Homo sapiens: one gene and its partner. The protein of the gene in region 1 interacts with the protein of each later gene in a pairwise test. Each region holds a gene or a part of one and is shown in the gene's direction. Other genes may lie near its edges.

The links. The genes of interacting proteins can lie anywhere in the genome.
Region 2: the proteins of CRELD2 (region 1) and NEK7 interact in binary tests that used the Homo sapiens proteins (3 or more experiments, as listed by UniProt).

Annotation. Positions count from the first base shown.
Region 1 is NC_000022.11:49,914,401-49,921,633, forward strand, and holds the start of CRELD2 (protein disulfide isomerase CRELD2 isoform b precursor), read left to right. Parts: upstream 1-4,233; 5' UTR 4,234-4,369; coding exon 4,370-4,498; intron 4,499-4,829; coding exon 4,830-4,912; intron 4,913-5,329; coding exon 5,330-5,440; intron 5,441-5,755; coding exon 5,756-5,847; intron 5,848-7,184; coding exon 7,185-7,233. UniProt on the Homo sapiens protein: Protein disulfide isomerase. Might play a role in the unfolded protein response. May regulate transport of alpha4-beta2 neuronal acetylcholine receptor.
Region 2 is NC_000001.11:198,313,998-198,321,023, forward strand, and holds part of NEK7 (serine/threonine-protein kinase Nek7), read left to right. Parts: intron 1-5,414; coding exon 5,415-5,525; 3' UTR 5,526-7,026. UniProt on the Homo sapiens protein: Protein kinase which plays an important role in mitotic cell cycle progression. Required for microtubule nucleation activity of the centrosome, robust mitotic spindle formation and cytokinesis.

The DNA of each region.
Region 1 (7,233 bases):
TGCGCCGAACCCCACCCTGGGGGCTGGGAGAAGCCATGGCCGGCTTTCCCAAAGGTGGCACCACACTGGCCATGAGCCTGCATGTGAGCCTGGGAAGACTGGCAATGGGTCCCCCAAACACTAACAGGACAACCTCAGGGGCCCGTGGCACGGAGCTTCCTGAGAGGCCAGCAACATGTCCAGCTGCTACACGTGAGAGACCAAGGGAGGGGAGGGGGCAAACTCTTCACGTTTCTGGCTTCTTTTAAAACAGATTTGATTTTATTCAATCCAAACCAGAAGGGCCAGAAGCAAAGGGAGAGAGAACCCCAGGGCTTACCATTTATTAAAACTACTTTAAAAATTTTTTTTAAGAGACAGCGTCTTACTCTGTCACCCAAGCTGGAGTGCAGTGGAGTGATCATGGCTCACTGCAGCCTCAAACTCCTGGGATCCTTTTGCCTGAGCCTCCTGAGTAGCCGCAGCTACAGGTGTGGGTCACCACACTCAGCTAAGTTTTCTTATTTTTTGTAAAGACAGGGTCTTGCTTTGTAGCCCAGGCTGGTATGGAATTCCTGGCTTCAAGCCATCTTCCTACCTTGGCCTCCTGAAGTATTGGGATTACAGGCGTGGGCCACCATGCCCAGCCAAAACTATCTTTTGATCAAACGGAGAGTTAAGAAGTATACAAAGATGGCAACCAAAGGAAAATCTGTAGATTAGAAGGAAGGAGAACCCTATTTGATATGGTGGGCAGGGGGTGGAGAGAAAGAAAAAAGAAAGCTTTAATAATTTTACGACTGAAATGGTATGCAGTTCTCTCCTTTGCCAAATATAAAAACCTGGGGCCGGGCGCGGTCGCTCATTCCCGTAATCCCAGCTCTTTGGGAGGCTGAGGGCCAGGTGCGGTGGCTCATTCCCATAATCCCAGCTCTTCGGGAGGCTGAGGTGGGTGGATCACGAGGTCAGCAGATCAAGACCATCCTGGCCAACATGGTGAAACCCTGTCTCTACTAAAAATACAAAAATTAGCTGGGCATGGTAGTGCACGCCTATAATCCCAGCTACTCGGGAGGCTAAGGCAGGAGAATCGCTTGAGCCCAGGAGGCAGAGGCCGCAGTGAGCCGAGATCACACCACTGAAATCCAGTCTGGGCCACAGAGCGTGACTCCGTCTCAGAAATAAATAAATAGATAATAAAAAAATTTAAAAAAATAAACTTGGTATCAAACAAAGAGAAAGGTCGAAGGACTAGGTTAGGAATCACTAACTGAGGGAGGGCCCACTCAGCTGTCTCCCACTTGCTAAGACACAAGCTTTTTGACGGTGGGGGGTTTTTGATGCTGGATGATTTTTCCCACCAGCGCAGCCTCAGCACCAAGGACAGAGGCCAGCCGCTGTGGCCTGAAGGCTGCCTCGCTGCCACCTCCCCTGCTGGACTCATCCTGCGGGCAGGGCTTGCTTGGTGGACTCACTGCTGAATCAGCAAAGCCTGCCGCACAGTAGGCACTCAACAAGGCTGCCGAAGAAGAAATCGGTAAAAACTCCTACATGGGGTTCTCATCACACCAGCTCACGTGCTTATTAAAAATTCCAGCAGCCGGGAGCGGTGGCTCATTCCTGTAATCCCAGCACTTTGGGAGGCTGAGGCGGGTGGATCACAAGGTCAAGAGATCGAGACCAGCTTGGCCAACATGGTAAAACCCCGTCTCTACTAAAAATACAAAAAAATTAGCTGGAGTGGTGGCGAGTAGTCCCAGCTACTTGGGAGGCTGAGGCAGGAGAATGGTGTGAACCCAGGAGGTGGAGCTTGCAGTGAGCCGAGATCGCGCCACTGCACTCCTGCCTGGGCGACAGAGCAAGACTCCATCTCAAAAATAAATAAATAAATTAATTAAATTAAATAAAAATATGTTCCAACGGCCGGGCGTGGTGGCTCATGCCTGTAATCCCAGCACTTTGGGAGGCTGAGGTGGGTGGATCACAAGGTCAGGAATTCAAGACCAGCCTAGCCAGCATGGTGAAACCTCATCTCTACTAAAAATACAAAAATTAGCTGGGCATGGTGGTGTGCGCCTGTAATCCCAACTACTTGGAAGGCAGAGGAGGAGAATTGCTTGAACTCGGGAGGCAGAGGTTGCAGCAAGCCAAGATCGCACCACTGTACTCCAGCCTGGACAACAGAGCCAGACTCCGTCTCAAAAAAAAAGAAATAGGAAGCAAGCCGGATGTGTTGGCTCACGCCTGTAATTCCAGCTACTCAGGAGTTCAAGACCAACCTGGGCTACAGAGCCAGACCCCATCTCCACAAAAATAATCCCAGCTACTCAGGAAGCTGACATGGGGGGTACTGCTTGAGGCCCGGAGTTCAAGACCAACTTGGGCTACATCATGAGACCCCATTTCTACAAAAATAAAAAATAAAACGGAACGGGGAGCATCTACGTGCCAAGATGTGGGAGGTGCACACAGCAAGTGCTGCTTGGCAGTCCCCCACAACCCCACTCCACACCTCTCCACCCAGGGGAGTTCCCCAGCAAGGAAGAGTTCAGCTGTGGGGTGAAAACATTACGTGCTGACTCTGACACTCCTGGCGGGCCCCCAGCACCTCCTCGGACCCAACAAGGTGTGCCTTCTGCTGATGACCAGCACAGCTCACTTTCGAGGGCATGAGAAGACCAAGGGTGAGTCTGGATTCTCTGCCAGGAGCACGGGAAGACCAAGTCAACACCAGCAAGCACGAAAACCACGACGAACCCCCCACCAGGCGAGGGTGAACGGACACTGTCCTGCACTAGCCCACTCTGCTGGGCAGCTGGGCAGCAGCTGTGGCTAATCTAAGTGACGGGTGCTTCGAGAGCACCCACAGGTTAAAACGGGCCCAGGCCATGACACTTTAAAATGGTGGTTTACAGAACAATGGCATCTCAGATTAGGGAATGACCTGCAAAGACCCTCTTGTCCCCATCAATCCAGATTTTAAGGCCTCTACCGAAATTGATCAAATCAGGCTAAGCATGGTGGCTCACGCCTGTAACCCTAGCACTTTGGGAGGCTGAGGCAGGCAGATCGCTTGAGGTCAGGACTTCGAGACCAGCCTGGCCAACATGGTGAAACCCCGTCTCTACTAAAAATACAAAAATTAGCCGGACCTGGTGGTGGGTGCCTGTAATCCCAACTTAGGAGGCTGAGGCAGCAGAATCACAGGAACCTGGAAGGCGGAGCTTGCAGTGAGCTGAGATCGCGCCACTGCACTCCAGCCTGGGCGACAAAGTGAGACTCCGTCTCAAAAAAACAGAAAAGAAACTGGTCAAATCAGATGTTACTTTTTTTTTTTTTAAATGTGCAGTGTTATCTGCACTCCTTCCTTCCACAGGCAGGAGTTCTCTGAAATCCAGACGCTGCACGTTTTATTTCCCCTAATTTAAACCAGGGGTTCCTGAACATGAGCGAGTGTTCATCACCTCAAGCGCCTGTAGAAATGCAGATCCCCAGCCCCCAGAGACCCTAAGTGGACCCCAGATCCCCAGCCCCCAGGTGAAAAACCCATCCCCCAGGTGGGAGGTCCGGCCCCAGGTGAGGAGCCCGGCCCCAGGTGAGAGGTCCAGCCCCAGGTGAGAGGTCGGGCCCCCGGATGAGAGGTCCGGCCCCCGGGTGAGAGGTCTGGCCCCCAGGTGACAGGTCCAGCCCCAGGTGAGGAGCCCGGCCCCAAGTGAGGGGTGCAGCCCCAGGTAAGGAGCACGGGGCTGTGACGCGTGGACATGCGCGGTGAGGCCTCAGGAATCCAGCGCCAGCGCCAGCTCGGGTCGCGCCCTCGCCCGCCTCCTCCCTGGTCTCGCCGCGCGCCCGCCTGAAGGCCCCGGTCGCGGCAGCGCGCACTGACCTCCGCAGCTCCCGGCGGCGTCCTTCGAAGCGCGGCTGCCTGGGCCAGCCTCGGCAGGAAGCAGGACGGCGGAAACAGAACAGAGCCCGAATCTAAAGTCCTTGCCCAAATCTAAAGTGGCTACCGCAGCCCCGGCCGCTACGGCCGCAGAGACCCTCTGTGCCCTGAGTAAAGATGGCCGCCGCGGGCTGCGCGCGAGGGGCGGGGAGCGGGAGGCGGGGTCGGACCTGCACGCCCCGCCCCCGGACTCCTGGCGGCCGCTGATCCGGGGCCTTCCCATTGGTCACCTCTCGTGGCGAACTCGGATTGGGCCATATCAGGCCGGGGCGGGTCCCATCAACCAATAGCGGCGCGGGGCTGGCGGGTGGGGCGGGGCCTCGCCGGCGCCGTCAAGTAGCCTGGGGGACAGGCCGGCGCGGCTGGGAGCGGGTGGGCGGCCGGGAGGCCGGAGCAGCACGGCCGCAGGACCTGGAGCTCCGGCTGCGTCTTCCCGCAGCGCTACCCGCCATGCGCCTGCCGCGCCGGGCCGCGCTGGGGCTCCTGCCGCTTCTGCTGCTGCTGCCGCCCGCGCCGGAGGCCGCCAAGAAGCCGACGCCCTGCCACCGGTGCCGGGGGCTGGTGGACAAGTTTAACCAGGTGGGAAGGGGCCGGGCGGGGTCGTCAACCTTGGGCCCGGGGTCCCCCTCACCCTGCATCCGGGGTCGCCCCACCTTGGGCCCAGGGTCGCCCTCACCCTGGATCCGGGGTCCCCCTCACCCTGGATTCGGGATCCCCCTCACCGTCGATCCAGAGTCCCTCCACCGTGGTCCTGGAGTCCCCCTCACCCTTGACCCGGATCCACCCCCACCGTGGAACCAGGGTCGACGCCACCGTGGGCCTGGAGTCCCCTCACCCTCGACCTGGGCTCGCCCCCACCCTGGACCCGGGTCAGGTGGTACCAAGCACTATGGGCACTGTCTCCTCGCAGGGGATGGTGGACACCGCAAAGAAGAACTTTGGCGGCGGGAACACGGCTTGGGAGGAAAAGACGCTGTCCAAGTACGAGTCCAGGTGGGTGCCCTGGAGCACCCCTGTGGGTCTTGGCCTGGCGCTGTCCTGGGAAGTCGTGTCCTGCCTTTGGTGCCTGTGTTAATGACAGGGAGACAGAACAGCCCCCGAGGCACCAGTCACCCGTCCGAGTCACCTCGGCTTCTCCCTGAGGACTAATGGCTGGCCCCTCTCTGGCCTTCCAGCTTCTGCTCTGGTCCCTACCCCCTCAACAGACAGTGGCTTTTCAAAATGTAAACTGGAACACCAGCCCCACTTGTGGGAACCGCTCCTGGCTTCCCCTGACAGTGGGGTCCCCTTATTCTCTGTGCCCGGAGTCCTGGCTCCCCGGCCCCTGCACCCAGGTTGGCGTATTGGTTCGGATTTTTCTTCACTGCCTTGGAGGCGCTGACGGTGGGCCGGTGTGGGCCTGTGTTTCAGCGAGATTCGCCTGCTGGAGATCCTGGAGGGGCTGTGCGAGAGCAGCGACTTCGAATGCAATCAGATGCTAGAGGCGCAGGAGGAGCACCTGGAGGCCTGGTGGCTGCAGCTGTGAGTGCCTTAAAACCTCTTAGAAGATACTTTTTATTTTCCAACTTAGAATTTGAAATAACCTCAGACTTAGAAAGGTACAGGAACAGTAGGGAGCTCCCACCTGCCTCGCACCCACCTTACCCCTGCATTACCGTTTTTTATCACCAGAGTCAGCGATCAAAACCAGGAAATTAAGGAGAAGATTCTGTCCACACCTAGACTCTTGTTTCCTGGACCTTACAATACTCCAGAGCATATGTTACGTTCAGCTGCATGTTTGTTTTAAAGAACCGTGTCTGCTGGGATTCAGTGAATGTTTTCCTCCATCCTCAGGAAGAGCGAATATCCTGACTTATTCGAGTGGTTTTGTGTGAAGACACTGAAAGTGTGCTGCTCTCCAGGAACCTACGGTCCCGACTGTCTCGGTGCGTTTCTCCTCAGGGAAATCCCATCTCCTACGTCACTTCCCCTCTTCTTCTCATGATTCTTGGGAGGTAAAAGCACAGAGGGGACCTGGGGTGCATCAGCTTTCTGTAGGGTCTGGGACCCTGCCGGATGGCTGCCTCCCCCATCCCCAACACAGCTTGGAGCACTTCGCACCGTCTGGCTGCAGCCTCACCACTAACCTCATGCTTTAGCGTAAAACTCTGAGTATGTCTTCCCAGCTGTGCTGTTAATTCAGGGGTTCACAGACTCAGGTTGTTCACAGCTGAGTCCACTCACCTGAGAGTCTGTCCTGACTGACCTGTCCAGGTGCTTCTCCCTGTGTGCACAGAGGTGACCACACCACAACTTCTGTGGCTGCTATTGCAGAGAGCGCAGGGCACTGGGTGTCTATCAGGCTGGGCACATGGCCTTGAGCCCCAATGGGTGCCAAGGGACAGGGCTCTTCTGTGAAGAAGTGTGCATTGAAACTGAAGTCACGGTTTACTGTTTATAAAAGCCAATCTCGTGGTCAAGCGAGATCAGGTAGCAGAAGTTTCAGGTTCAGACCCCCCACCCGCCCACCATCAGCCTTCTGCCAGCCCCTGCTGCTGTCCCTGGCATGCACTGGAGGCCGCAGCTAATGTTCCCACTCTCCCTGCAGTCCCCGCGCCTGACGCGTCAGTGTCCCTATCACCATGTTTCAGCTGAGGCTGCCCAAAGCCACACAAAGTGCAGTCATGTGTAACGACCAGGCGTGTTCTGAGAAATGCGTCATTAGGCGACTTTGTCATGGTGCAAACATCACAGCGTGCACTCCACACGCCACACGCCACACGCCTAGATGGTGCAGCCGCTCTGCACCTAGGCTGCCTGGCAGGCCCTGCTGCTCCCAGGCCGCACACCTGCACGGCTCGTGAGGGTCCTGAGTACTGTGGGCCATTTGGCACGTGGTAAGAATGTGTCACCTGAACACATCTAAACATAGAACAGGTAATGAGGCACATTGTGATGTCACTAGGCAATAAGAGCCGCTCAGCTTTAGTATCATCTTAGGGGACAGCTGTGCTATGCAGGGTCCCTTGTTGACCTAAACGTCATCATGCAGCACGTGGCCATAGTGAAGCCCAGGAGCCTGTGGCTTGCTCCACTCAGGCGATCCACCGCCAGCCCTGCAGACCCAGGAAATCAGTTTCCCCAAACACCCACTCCAAGCCTTCAGGCTCATGTACGTCCTCAGAATCGTACAGGGTTTGGGTGCCATGCGTTCTCTCCGTGTGAGAACACCGCACCGGTCACCACCAGGTGTGCTCTGAGCATGGTTTTGTGTCCCCTAAAGCATGCCAGGGCGGATCCCAGAGGCCCTGCAGCGGGAATGGCCACTGCAG
Region 2 (7,026 bases), on another chromosome or scaffold:
AGTTCTCCCGGATAATATCCTGCAGAGTGTTTTCCAACTTGGTTCCATTCTCCCCGTCACTTTCAGGTACACCAATCAGACGTAGATTTGGTCCTTTCACATAGTCCCATATTTCTTGGAGGCTTTGCTCGTTTCTTTTTATTCTTTTTTCTCTAAACTTCCCTTCTCGCTTCATTTCATTCATTTCATCTTCCATCGCTGATACCCTTTCTTCCAGTTGATTGCATTGGCTCCTGAGGCTTCTGCATTCTTCACGTAGTTCTCGAGCCTTGGTTTTCAGCTCCATCAGCTCCTTTAAGCACTTCTCTGTAATGGTTATTCTAGTTATACATTCTTCTAAATTTTTTTCAAAGTTTTCAACTTCTTTGCCTTTGGTTTGAATGTCCTCCCGTAGCTCGGAGTAATTTGATCGTCTGAAGTCTTCTTCTCTCAGCTTGTCAAAGTCATTGTCAGTCCAGCTTTGTTCCGTTGCTGGTGAGGAACTGCATTCCTTTGGAGGAGGAGAGGCGCTCTGCTTTTTAGAGTTTCCAGTTTTTCTGCTCTGTTTTTTCCCCATCTTTGTGGTTTTATCTACTTTTGGTCTTTGATGATGGTGATGTACAGGTGGGTTTTTGGTGTGGATGTCGTTTCTGTTTGTTAGTTTTCCTTCTAACAGACAGGACCCTCAGCTGCAAGTCTGTTTGAGTACCCGGCCGTGTGAGGTGTCAGTATGCCCCTGCAGGGGGGTGCCTCCCAGTTAGGCTGCTCAGGGGTCAGGGGTCAGAGACCCACTTGAGGAGGCAGTCTGCCCGTTCTCAGATCTCCAGCTGCCTGCTGGGAGAACCACTGCTCTCTTCAAAGCTGTCAGACAGGGACATTTAAGTCTTCAGAGGTTACTGCTGTCCTTTTGTTTGTCTGTGCCCTGCCCCCAGAGGTGGAGCCTACAGAGGCAGGCAGGTCTCCTTGAGCTGTGGTGAGCTCCACCCAGTTGGTGCTTCCCGGCTGCTTTGTTTACCTAAGCACGCCTGGGCAATGGCGGGCGCCCCTCCCCCAGCCTCGCCGCCACCTTGCAGTTTGATCTCAAGACTGCTGTGCTAGCAATCAGGGAGACTCCATGGGCGTAGGACCCTCCGAGCCAGATGCGGGATATAGTCTCCTGGTGCGCCGTTTTTTTAAGCCCGTCGGAAAAGCGCAGTATTCAGGTGGGAGTGACCTGATTTTCCAGGTGCCGTCTGTCACCCCTTTCTTTGACTAGGTAAGGGAACTCTCTGACCCCTTGCGCTTCCCGAGTGAGGCAATGCCTCGCCCTGCTTCGGCTCGCGCATGGTGCGCGCACCCACTGACCTGCGCCCACTGTCTGGCACTCCCTAGTGAGATGAACCCGGTACCTCAGATGGAAATGCAGAAATCACCCGTCTTCTGCGTCGCTTACGCTGGGAGCTGTAGACTGGAGCTGTTCCTATTCGGCCATCTTGGCTCCTCCTCCCCATCTATGGTGGGCCTTAGCTTTTCTAAGAGGTATGAGGAGCCATTGAAATGCTTAAAGTTGAAGCATCACCTGGCTAGTTAGGCAGTGCTAGAGAAATAGGAAGACAACTGAAAGCAAAGCCGTCAGCTGGAAGACTATCCAAGAGTGTGGCAGTGGAGATGGTGTGGCAGGAGCAAACAAAAGGTTTAAGGAGCCTGAGACCAATAGGACTGGTTGCTGACGGTTAGGCAGGTGGGAAGGAAGTATGATGAGATGTTTGATATGAATTTCAAATTTTTGACTTAAGAAGTTGGAGGTGCTGTTAGGAAGAGCTGGTTGGGGAGAAAAAAATACTAATATTTCAGTTTTAAACATGTTTAATGTGAATATTTACGTGCAGCTCTACTCAGAAGGCAGTTGGAAGTATGGGAACAGAGCCTGCAAAGAGGTCTAGGCTGGAGACAGATAACCTGTGTTCCTCAGCATGTTGGTGGTTATTGAAGGCATGGGAGTAAGTGCAGTTGTTGAAGATAAGAAGGAAGAGTGAAACAGGAAAAGAGTTAAGGAAAGGAAAATATTTAGGGCATACCAACATTTGGTAGATTTTTCAAAGGAAGATAAACCTCCAAAAGAAACTAGGAAGAAAACGTCAGGGAAGAGAAGGTCTAGGCCGGAATTGAATGATGTAAATCCAAAAGGATAGAGCTGACCAGGATGAAAGGGATTGGAAATGGTCTCAGTCAAATCAAACACAACCATACTGGAGGAAGGGAGGGAGAGACACAGAAGGACAGTTGTGTGTGCTTACATTTCTGATGTGACACAGCATTTTAAGAAACAGGCTGTGTCCTTGGAAGACAGAGACTAAATTGGTATGAAGGTGAAGATTACAGTCAGGTAATCAAAGAGATTTATATTGATTCACATCAAATAAATGTGAAAGTGACCCAAGATGAGGGTTGCAGTACTTGGAATGGAGAAGGATACTGTCAGCTGTGTGGGTATCGATACCTCCGTGTACGAGGTGCAACAACTCATAGTTAAACAGATTTTAGAAAAAGAGGAAAGTAATTATTTCCTCCTCTGGGCAGCCACACTTAATCTTTTACCTTTATCTCACAGATATCTCTTGAGATACCTATCACTTTGTAGTTTATAATAGAATTATTTCTGTGATTTCCTCACTTTCACATTTGTTTCTTTGTTCTGTCTATCTTCCGCTAGATTGTAGGCTGTTTAAGGGCCTGTGCTGTGTATTTTTCATTATTGCTTTATCCTTACTACCTAACAAAGTGTCTGGTACATAATAAATACTCCATTGGAAACTATTGAATGAACAATTGAATGAACGGATGAAAATGGAAGAGGGGGCAAAAAGAAAGAACAAAAGAGTCAGATGGTTAGAAAGGAAAATGAGTCATTCTCTCACTTCTCATGCTGGACAACAAGCCTTCCCTTGTGGACAGGTCCTTTGTCTTATCCGGTGCCATCAAGTATCACCAGCATAGTGTCTCTTGCAGAGTAGATCATCTAGAAATGTTGCTGGAGTGGATAAGTGGGAGCATTCCCAAAGCATATTTTAATTTCGTAGGTTTTCTTTCTTTTTATACTTTATTAATTTTTTAATGTAACAAATAATTGAGGAAAAGTTATCAACAGATTGATTCATAAATATAGTAAAGTATGCATATTCTGTATTTCACATATCTGATTTTATATGGTGATAGCCCTTTTGATTCTTCTGGAAAAGGAAACTCTTTATGACAAGATACACTTCGTATTTGGTGGAGATTGAATCAATAAGTGGGGAAGGAAAAGCAAACTCCAAGGTGCTGTGGCTCTGCCTGTCGCAAGGTCACCAATTGACCTGTCATCCCTTTGAAAGGCCATCCTTAAAGGAGCAGTTTAGAAGCATCTGCTCACTGGCACTCCCACTACCTATTTACCTTATTCAGTGTCTTTCTCCCTTTTTGTTATTCCCAATTCTTGTCTTTTTACTTTGGTGAACTAGAGAATCACTGTCTGCTTCAACTAAACGTGCATCATTATATCTCTAATCTTGGTTTTTCCTCATGCCAGGAGAACTTAAGGGCCAGTCATTCATTCTTAGTGGTTGGAAATTCTACCCTATTCTGAATTATTACACAGGAAAAGTTAAGGTTTCTGAACCAGCTTGAAGGATGTGGCAGTGTTAGGAAGTCAAAAAATTGTTTACTGCATGCATCTACTTGTATTTTAGCTAAATATAATGAACTTTTTGTACCATGGTTATCTTTTCCTGCTATTCTTTCTGCTTGCTTTCTTGTTTTTATCTCTAAAGAAAATATCTGACAGCTAGATGACCCATTAGAACACATTATCTTTTAAATTATGTGTCATTATGTAAGTGCTTTTCCCACTTTCTTCTGCATTGTGTATTACTGGATATATTTATTTTTTTTTTTTTTTTTTTTTTTGGTAACCTGGTAAAATGCCAGTCTCTTTCTGATGTAAATTTCTCTTAGATCACCATAATAAAATGCTTTGTGTATTGCTGTACCCCTTAAGGGTTTTAAATGCTGTTCTCTGCTCTTTTGGAAGGAATATAAATTAAAATCTTCAGGCTCTCCCAGTGGGTGTAACATTACTATGAAACATTGTTGAATTTCCAAGTGTAGCTAAAATTGATTCATTAAATTTCATTCTGCTAGAATCGTAAAATGTAAGAGATTAGGATGAGAACAGCCCTTATAGGTCATCCACTCCAACTTCCCTATTTAATAGATGAAGAAATGAACCTCCAGAGACAGTGACTTACCCAAGGGCACAGAGCTACAAAGTGCCTTCAACAAGACTGGTTTCCATTTCACTGTACTCCTTACCAAACTCTGACCCTTCATCTGGCAGACTCTTTGACCCACCTCCTCTTTCAGAATGACATTTCTCAGTGCCATTAGCCTTCTCCATAGCACTAGCAACATCTTCAGCCCAAGCTTTTTAATCATCACTTGTATTTTCTCTGGTTGAAAGTTATTTTATGGTAGAAATTGAGAACTATGAAGAAATTGTGCTAATTTAAAAATTTACTAAGTGCTATATCGTGGCCAGAGTTAATGCAAATTCTCAAAATGTCTAAACTGTTCCTAAAGAGACCTACAAAGCAAAAGAATATAGTTTTTCCTCTTAGTTTATTGTCTATGAAGATCATATACAATGTTATGATGACACATAGTTTCATAAACTGATGGAAATTAGAATTGACAATAAAATGCTATGTTCTTCTACCCGATGGATCGAGGACCATATAGGAGGGTAGTTTCTTAATTTATTGAAATCTGCTTTTATTCTATGATATAAATAGAATAAAATAGTAAACCTCAACTCTCTCATCTATAAAGTGAGGACATTTAAATACTGTGTACACAATTGAGGATTGGAATAACACTTATAACTTCCCATATAATTTATTATAATTAGTTTAAAGGAGTGTTTTTTTCTCTAATACAAAATTTAACATAAAACTTTTAATATATATTTGTACAAAATGGTTCATTATAAATGTATGTCAACTCTAATTGCCTTCCATTTAAACTTACAATTAAGTCTGTTGTAGTAGATTCTAGATCAAATATGTATGTGTGTATTTACAGTTAACTTGGAGACTTATAGTTATAAGACTAGTGTCCTCAGTGACTGCTATCTTCTGATTAAACTCTGAAAAATTAAGAGAGTCCATTTTAAAGCCTCTGATTGTGGAAAATACTTCTTGGTTGACATTAATACTGTCCATTCAATGCACTTCATAGAACATTTAACTTATTGTAAGATCATTGGCAGCAGTCTTATATATATTTCTAGTACAGTGAATGTTTAGTCAGAAAATGTACTTTCCTTGTAAAATCTATAGCTATTCATAATTTCTTCCTCTCAGTAAACTAACCAAAAATAGTTGTCTTAATCAGGTTTTATTGTTTTTCTTTCTTCACAGCTCCGACAGTTAGTTAATATGTGCATCAACCCAGATCCAGAGAAGCGACCAGACGTCACCTATGTTTATGACGTAGCAAAGAGGATGCATGCATGCACTGCAAGCAGCTAAACATGCAAGATCATGAAGAGTGTAACCAAAGTAATTGAAAGTATTTTGTGCAAGTCATACCTCCCCATTTATGTCTGGTGTTAAGATTAATATTTCAGAGCTAGTGTGCTTTGAATCCTTAACCAGTTTTCATATAAGCTTCATTTTGTACCAGTCACCTAAATCACCTCCTTGCAACCCCCAAATGACTTTGGAATAACTGAATTGCATGTTAGGAGAGAAAATGAAACATGATGGTTTTGAATGGCTAAAGGTTTATAGAATTTCTTACAGTTTTCTGCTGATAAATTGTGTTTAGATAGACTGTCAGTGCCAAATATTGAAGGTGCAGCTTGGCACACATCAGAATAGACTCATACCTGAGAAAAAGTATCTGAACATGTGACTTGTTTCTTTTTTAGTAATTTATGGACATTGAGATGAACACAATTGTGAACTTTTGTGAAGATTTTATTTTTAAACGTTTGAAGTACTAGTTTTAGTTCTTAGCAGAGTAGTTTTCAAATATGATTCTTATGATAAATGTAGACACAAACTATTTGAGAAACATTTAGAACTCTTAGCTTATACATTCAAAATGTAACTATTAAATGTGAAGATTTGGGGACAAAATGTGAGTCAGACACTGAAGAGTTTTTTGTTTTGTTTTAATATTTTTGATATTCTCTTTGCATTGAAATGGTATAAATGAATCCATTTAAAAAGTGGTTAAGGATTTGTTTAGCTGGTGTGATAATAATTTTTAAAGTTGCACATTGCCCAAGGCTTTTTTTGTGTGTTTTTATTGTTGTTTGTACATTTGAAAAATATTCTTTGAATAACCTTGCAGTACTATATTTCAATTTCTTTATAAATTTAAGTGCATTTTAACTCATAATTGTACACTATAATATAAGCCTAAGTTTTTATTCATAAGTTTTATTGAAGTTCTGATCGGTCCCCTTCAGAAATTTTTTTATATTATTCTTCAAGTTACTTTCTTATTTATATTGTATGTGCATTTTATCCATTAATGTTTCATACTTTCTGAGAGTATAATACCCTTTTAAAAGATATTTGGTATACCAATACTTTTCCTGGATTGAAAACTTTTTTTAAACTTTTTAAAATTTGGGCCACTCTGTATGCATATGTTTGGTCTTGTTAAAGAGGAAGAAAGGATGTGTGTTATACTGTACCTGTGAATGTTGATACAGTTACAATTTATTTGACAAGGTTGTAATTCTAGAATATGCTTAATAAAATGAAAACTGGCCATGACTACAGCCAGAACTGTTATGAGATTAACATTTCTATTGAGAAGCTTTTGAGTAAAGTACTGTATTTGTTCATGAAGATGACTGAGATGGTAACACTTCGTGTAGCTTAAGGAAATGGGCAGAATTTCGTAAATGCTGTTGTGCAGATGTGTTTTCCCTGAATGCTTTCGTATTAGTGGCGACCAGTTTCTCACAGAATTGTGAAGCCTGAAGGCCAAGAGGAAGTCACTGTTAAAGGACTC